3 separate regions of the Homo sapiens genome follow, and regions 2 and 3 are each linked to region 1. A link means that fine-mapping ties the variant in region 1 to the expression of a gene that starts in the linked region. Tissue or cell type: esophagus muscle. Region 1 holds a variant in brackets; each other region holds the start of a gene. All regions are shown on one strand. Distances are from middle to middle.

The links. PIP is the estimated chance that this variant, and not a neighbour inherited with it, causes the effect.
Region 2: ZCCHC12 starts here. The variant in region 1 is fine-mapped to the expression of ZCCHC12 in esophagus muscle (GTEx, PIP 0.93).
Region 3: IL13RA1 starts here. The variant in region 1 is fine-mapped to the expression of IL13RA1 in esophagus muscle (GTEx, PIP 0.99). The same link has a PIP of 0.9 or more in gastroesophageal junction.

Annotation. Positions count from the first base shown.
Region 1 is chrX:118,794,778-118,797,277 of GRCh38, reverse strand. It overlaps a transcript of IL13RA1 not described here. Among named protein-coding and RNA genes, the nearest start is that of ZCCHC12, 28 kb to the left of the region's middle. The variant T/C (reference allele first, on the strand shown) is at 1,375.
Region 2 is chrX:118,822,181-118,824,803 of GRCh38, reverse strand. It overlaps ZCCHC12 (zinc finger CCHC-type containing 12), which reads right to left and starts at 980. Exons shown (of 4, transcript NM_173798.4): 1 at 799-980; 2 at 414-465; 3 at 91-215.
Region 3 is chrX:118,726,026-118,728,648 of GRCh38, reverse strand. IL13RA1 (interleukin 13 receptor subunit alpha 1) reads right to left here and starts at 1,043. Exons shown (of 11, transcript NM_001560.3): 1 at 923-1,043. The coding sequence starts at 1,010. RefSeq lists a silencer at 1,005-1,434.

The sequences.
Region 1 (2,500 bases):
TTCTTGATTTGTAAAACAAAAATCATCTTAACCTTTATTGGATGTCAAAATTAATAGAGCTAATCTAGTCCAACCTCCTCATTTTACAGATGAGAACGCTGATGCCTAGAGCTAGTGTTTATAGCAAAGATTCTCACTTCCAAATGAACTCCACAACCTATGGTCACCATTAGGAGTCATGGATGGGATTATACATCACTGTCTAACACCTTCATTTTACAGATAGGGAAACAGACCCAGACAGAGAAAGTTATCTGCCCACATTCATTTGGAACTCCTAAATGATAATCCAGGTTTCTTTCCCCTATACAAAGTAGCCTTCCCTTAACTAACCACCTGATACTAAGCCAAATCTTATTGACTTCTAAATTCCTATTACATAACACATTGTCTAGCTCGTAGATAAATGAATGCACAAATGAATCTCTTAAAAGACACTATAGGCCAGGCACGGTGGCTCACGCCTGTAATCCCAGCACTTTGGGAGGCCGAGGCGGGCGGATCACCTGAGGCCGGGAGTTCGAGACCAGCCTGACCAACATGGAGAAACCCCATCTCTACTAAAAATACAAACATTAGCCGGGCGTGGTGGCGGTCACCTAGTCTCAGCTACTTGGGGGGCTGAGGCAGGAGAATCCCTTGAACCCGGGAGGCAGAGGTTGTGGTGAACTGAGATTGTGCCATTGCACTCCAGCCTGGGCAACACGAGCAAAATCCCGTCTCAAAAAAACAAAACAAAACAAAAAAGATGCTATAAAATGCTCACTTTGCAATTAATGATTTAAAATCAGAAATCTTCCAGTTGATAAGCAATTTGGCAAAATGCGAAATAAGATGTTTTTTTCTTTAGGTAACTGCCTTTTGGGGACAAGTAAATATACCACTGACTATATTATACAGGCTTTAAAGTCAGGCTGACTTGCTTCCCAATTTTGTCTTAGTCTCTTACTAGCTATGTGATCTTGCATACACAGCTCAATCGCTCTATGTCTCAGTTTCTTCATCTGTAAAATGACGTTAACAACACAACCTAACTCATGGGACCAGCATACAGATTATGTGAAATCACACATGTAACTCGGCACATAGGAGCCACTCAGAAACTATTAATTTTCTTTTTATAATGGTCTACCCAATAAATGCTGAAAACCAGCAGTTAAATATTTTCCTGTTGCTAATGGTAAACTAAAAATGTGACCGTTAGGAAAGATAGTAAAAAGCCAGAGAACCTTCAAGAAGAAATCATCTTGGGGATTGATGTCAAAAATATCTAGCACATCCAAATGTCAGTAAAACTCCTCCCTTGCTTAAAGTAAAAGCATGCCAAGATTTAGCTACAGTATTTACAAAAAAGACTTTGTTTGACTCAACCGT[T/C]AGGGTTTAAAAGAAAACAGAGTCTCTGAAATAAATGTTCTTGTCCTCTTGCTTTCTTTTAAAACTACTAATAAGTTAGTAGCATAATGTGCTATTCATGTGAGCATAAGTTACACCTTCAAAAGAGCAAGAGTTCATGGAAACAAGGAAATGATAAATTCCTCTGGAAATCAAATGTGCTTAGATCACTCTGGCTCCTCTACCCCTGAGACAAAGTGATCATGTTTGTGGCTACAGGAATTTGTTTTCCATAGATCTCACACAAATTTACGACCTCAAGGGGGTTCTCAATTTTAAATGTTTTCTGTTGTAATACTCACTGTTGATGTGTTAAGAATCAGAAAAGAGGTTTCTTATTTTAAAATAACAAGAACAACAAAACAGCTACACTTACCTAGAAACGGATTTTCAGAATCTTCCTGGATAATTCCAGATAAATAACTTGACCAAGATCAGCACCCTCACTCTTTCCCTAGGGTTTGGATTCTATAAAGATTCAGGGTAATTAGCAAATGTGATCTGGCTGAAGACACACTCCTTGAGCTTAACACAAATGAGGGGAAGAAAACCTCCATGACATTAAAACCATTTTGCTGTAGTTATAGAAAATATGAAACTGTATCACCAGCTTTTAAAAGGACAGCTATTGAAAACTGATTTTTTTTTCTTTTTCTTTTTTTTTTTTTTTTTTTGAGACGGAGTCTCGCTCTGTTGCCCAGGCTGGAGTGCAGTGGCATGCTGCAAGCTCCACCTCCCGGGTTCACGCCATTCTCCTGCCTCAGCCTCCTGAGTAGCTGGGACCACAGTCGCCCGCCACTACACCCAGCTAATTTTTTTGTATTTTTAGTACAGCTGGGGTTTCACCGTGTTAGCCAGGATGGTCTGGATCTCCTGACCTCATGATCAGCCCGCTTCAGCCTTCCAAAGTGCTGGGATTACAGGCGTGAGCCACTGCGTCCAGTCAAAAACTGACTTTCTTGGTCTCTAATCTAACCTGCTAATATATTCCCTTGTGACTAGACATTGCACATCATGTATATCATTAATCATATTGCATTCCACTTTAGCTTAATATTAGAAAGGACCAACCCTCCATTTCCATTAATTATCATAACTACAATTTATT
Region 2 (2,623 bases), 27 kb before region 1:
TCATTAACCTCATGGTCTCTGGTCTCAACCACACCCCCTTCTCAAAGTGCCCCCCACGCCCGTCCCCCTTGTTATTTCTCAGATTCTTACACGAACTCTGAAACAAGAGCGCGTCTTTATTTCACTTCCAGCCTCTGCAACCAGTGCCCTCCGTGAGAAAGCTCCTCTCCGGGGTACGGTCAACCTCTGTCCACAGGGGGTCGCAGATCCGGGTCCTTGAGGTTTCAAGATTGCGCCACAGCGGAGAAGGCCAGAGAAGGGAAGGGTTAGAAGCAGCTTCACCCGTCATCCTGCTACCCACCACCTCCGCTGTTGCCAGGCGAAAAATTCTCTCTGCCCCCTCCTGACTATAAGCCAGAGACCAGCCCCCCACCCTCCAGCATTACATTTCCCCCGGGAAGCCGTCGGCCTACCAGCTCTGCAATCAGCTGCACAGAATTCAAGTTCAGATGCGGCTTTGATGGCCTGCCACGGAGAAAGGGAATAGGAGTTGGACACACCCACCCACATATTCCTCCCAGAAAGAGATGAGGAGATGCAAAGGATGTTCGAAGCAAACAGCTCGAGATTCCTCCCCCCGCTACTCCTCGCCTCTCCTCCCACCCCCAAATCCAGGCAAATCCTACCTAGCCCGCAGTATCCAGGTGAACCCCACCTCCTCCCTCAGCGCAGCCGGGCCACGAGAGTACTCCTACCCCTGCCTCACAGTCACCGATTCTCCAAGCTGGGAGCCGCCCAGTACTGGTGGGTCTTCCCCCACCCCTCTCCCCGCCGGGCAATCACACCCCCATTCTTTACCTGTGCTCCGCTGGTGGACAGCAGATGCTCCCGCGTCGCCAGCTGTGGATTCCGCCTTCTGGTCTCCGCCTTGCAGGCGGCAAAGAACTGAAGCCTCCTTGGCCGCTAAGCGACCCGGGGCTGCCCGAAGGAGCTGCTTCGCAGGGCCGCCCAACCAGGGGTAGCAGAGACGAGGCAGCGCCGTTCCTAAGGCAGCCGCGGCGGCTTTTATCCTCTGCCAGCTGAGACAAAAGAGCGTGACGAGCGGGCTAGTGCGGCCAATCAGCGAAGTGCGGGGGCGGACGCCCCGCACAGCCTTGGGCAGAGGCGAGTTTTCGCCTGAGGGGGCGGGGGCGCAGCAGGCCCGCGGAGCGTCAAGTGCAGCTTGATTAGACCGATGGAGCCAATCTGCCTGGGAATTTGCGACTCTTTCTTCCTCCCCCAACCCGTCCCTTCTCCCTGGGCTCAACTCTGCATCTTAGGCCAGGTGCATTAAACACGAAGTGGGTCCAAAATCAAGTGAATAATAAAAGTTCTTCACCTTGGTATAGGGAAAAGACGGGGAAGAGGGGAAGGGGCGGGAAGAGCATTAGCACGTGCATTGCGGAAACAGGCTTTCACACACATCTCCTCTTTTACTGTGAAAGAAGTAGCAGTATGTCCATTTAACAGAGAGGAGAGCTGGAGAACAAGGCTCTCAACCAATACCCATTCAAGTATGGGGGCAAGACATCAGAGTCATTTGGGGGAGCTTGTTAGAAATGCAGTCTTCTGGCCGGGAATGGTGGCTCACGCCTGAAATCCCAGCACTTTGGGAGGCCGAGGCGGGCGGCTCACGAGGTCAAGAGATCGAGACCATCCTGGCCAACATGTTGAAACCCCGTCTCTACTAAAAAGACAAAAAAAAAAAAAAAAATCAGCTGGGCATGATGGCGCGTGCCTGTAATCCCAGCTACTTGGGAGGCTGAGGCTAGAGAATCTCTCCAACCTGGGAGGCGGAGGTTGCAGTGAACCAAGATCGCACCGCTGCACTTCAGCCTGGCAAGGGAACAAGACTCCCTCTCAAAAAAAAAAAAAAAAAAAAAAAAAAAAAAAAAAAAAGGAAAAGAAAAGAAATGTAGGCTCTGGGCCCCAACTCTGGTGGATTCAGATTTACTAGGACTAGCGGTTGTGATGTGGTTTTGTATTTAGTATTTTTAACCGGCGCTGCGGTTGGTTCTGAGTTGTAGCAAGGTTTGTGAATAAGTAAATGAGCCTGTCTCCAATATCTGTCCACAGGTATCTGTGGTGAAATGCAACTCCAGAGCAGATGTGCCTACCTGGAATCCATGATCTTCCTGAAATTGTATGCAAAGATTTCGGACTCTGTATGAAGCTAAATAATGGCCACCCAAATGTATCAAGTCCTAATCCCTGAAACCTGTAAATGTTACCTTATAAAGTAAAATGGTCTTTGCAGGTGTGATTAAGTTAAGGCTTTTTGACTTAATTTTCCAGGCAGGCTGAAATCTAAACCACAAGTGCCCTTATAAAAGAGGGAGAGTTGGTGCACCAAGAAGAGAAGGCAATGACCAGAGATTAGTGATGTGGCCATAAGCAGAGGAATGCTAGCAGCCACCAGAAACTGGAAGAGGCAAGGAATAAAGCACAGTCCTACTGACACCTTGAATTCAGCCCAGAGAAACAGATGTTAAGCTTCTGGCTTCTAGAACTGTGAGAAATTAAACTTCTCTTGTTTTAAGCCAAGTTTGTGATAATTTGTTACAGTGCTGTTTTAGTCTGTTTGGGGTGCTATGGCAAAATACCATAGACTGGGTGGTTTATAAACAACAGAAATGTATTGCTC
Region 3 (2,623 bases), 69 kb after region 1:
AATAAGCATATATAAGTGTTTGTGTCAATGTGATAATAAAACCTATACAGTTTGGGGCTTTCATTGTCACCAAAAACGTCCAGAAGGCCATTCCTTCCAGGAGCTGCTCCTAAGGAAGTCATTAACTCCCAATTTTTCACAACTGCCAGGTTGATTAACTAGAAGTTACCAAACAGGGTGAGGGATATACACAACTCTCTGAAGTATCTTTGCAACTTTTCCATAAATCTACAATTACCCTAAAATATAAGGTTTATTAAAGAGAGTGGGGTGGGGGGAGCATCTGCCGGGATGCTATTCTGGATTTCCCAAAGGATTTCTTCGACGCCAGAGGAGGTCATGAGCGTCACGTCCTTTTTCAACAAGGACTGAGATGTTTAGAGGTTCCCTTCAACTTCCACTCGCAAGAGCCACCCTTAGACAGTGAGGATTGGCGCGGCCTCGGGCAAAGAGCCCCGGCGCGTTCTCAGCTCGCCTGGACTTCGGTCGTGGTCCCCGCCGGCTCTGGCGCCTCATTTCCTCCCGGGCTCACAGGCGACATTCCGGGCGCTGACCCACGGCCCTCTGACGCCGTGGGCATGTTTCGGGCCCCCCGCCCCCGCACGCCTGGACGCCAGCCTCCTGGGCTCTTCCCACTACAAGTCGCAGCCCTCTTACTTCGCTGCCGCCACCTCCGCCGCACCCGGAGTTCGGGAAAACCCCGCAGCTCCCGGGTCCCACCTCGAACCGGCCCCAGTACCGGGCCCCAGAGATCCCGCGCGGGAAGCCGCAGCCGCCGAGCGCGGGGCCTCGCGAGGGCAGCCCCCAGCACCCACCCCAGCTTCGGCCCTCCGCCCGGCGTTGACCTCCGGGGCCTTTCAGCCGTGACCCTCACCGCCCTCAGCCCTCCGGCCGCCCCTCGGGCCCCGAGGGTCGCACTCACCCGTAGGCGCGGCGCCCCCGCCCCCGCCCCCGCCGCCGGCGCAGAGCAGCAGCGCCCACAGCCCGCAGAGCCGCGCCGGCCACTCCATGCAGCCTCTCGCCTCGGAGCCCGGCCGGGCTGGAGCCTTGGCAGTCCCCGCCTCCTTCGCTCCCTCTTCCACTTCCCGGCTCCGCCGCCCTGGAGGCTGGGGGCCGGCGCAGACGGGAAGGGCCGCCCCGCCCACCGGCCTCAGGTAACCTGAGCCGGCGAGAGCGGCCGGAGGAGGCGGGGCGGGGCGCCGGCGGCTCTGGCGGCTCTGGCGGCTCCTACGGCTCCCAAGGCTGGACACCTGGCCCACCCGCAGCTCCCGCGTCCGGTCTCTGACCGAACAAAACTTCTTCCACCACGTCGCCGCCCACTCCGGGCGCTGCCTGGGCCTCCTCCCTCCGCGTGGCGGAGCCGGCGTCGCCGCTGCCAGCACACTTGCGGGGCCTCGGAGGTGCTAGGGGCTGTGCCCTGCTGGACACCAGGACAGAGTCATCTGCGGAAAAGAGCCTTGGCCTGGGAGTCTGGAGACCTGGCTTCCAGCCCTTGACCTCTGAGCCCTTGTTTGCTAGCGCTGACTCCAGGGTTAGTAATACCAGCCCTACTTCACTGGGTGGAGTTGGGGACACTGGCAGTACTGTGCTTTGTGAAAAGGACAAAGGGCATATTTGAAAGCTGGCAATACATAATGTTGATTTTAAAAGGAACATTCCAAACATGAGGGAGGATACCATACGTGCATTTTTTAAAGCACACGACAAACTTTCTACATATTTTTCAAAGGGATGGGAGGTGAATCGGAAGAATACACATTGATACTTGGGCGCCTATGAGGGTCAGTGAGGCTGGGAGGAAGGAAAACAAGAGTCCTTAGGCGTTTCCTGTTGCTGCTGTCAAAAATGACCACAAATTTAGTGATTTAACAGTTTTATTTTATTACAGTTCTGGAGGTCAGAAGTGACACTGAGCTTAAATCAAGGTGTGGGCAGAGATGTATTCCTTCTGGATATTCTAGGGGAGAATCTGTGTCTTTGACTTTTCCAGCTTCTAGAGGCTACCCACATTCCTTGGCTTGTTGCGGAACTACTCAGACCTCTGCTTCCCTTGTCGTATCTGACTCTGACCCTCTTACTTCCCCTTTTCCCTTATAAATACCCTTGTGATTAGATTAGGTCCACCAGATAATTCATAATAATCTCCCCATCTCAAAATCCTTGATTTAATCATAACTGAAAAGTCATTTTTGCTATGTAAGTTAACATATTCACAGGTGTTGGGGATCACGATATGGAATCATGGGAGGGGGACATTATTCTATCACCTTCTCCCAAAAAAGAATCATGTCTAGGTGGATGATGAGACCCATAATGAGGTGTATTTTGGCCGAATTAAGCCAATGCATATACCTGAAAACAGTTACAAAAAGTATAGCAATAAAAATGCTGATAATATACCTAGTCTAGACCCCACCCAAAGGGCACAGGGTTGTTTAACCTATTCACAACAAAGGTTCCACTCTTGGAATTAAGGCTCTCAAACTCAATAAATATTTATGAAATTGTTCCAGGAACTGTTGAAGACACTCACCAAAAGCAAGCTCTGCTAACAGAAAGCTGCAGTCAGTCTGAGGGGCAATGATAAGGGCAAGAACAAGGAATTATGGGATACAAAAAGGGT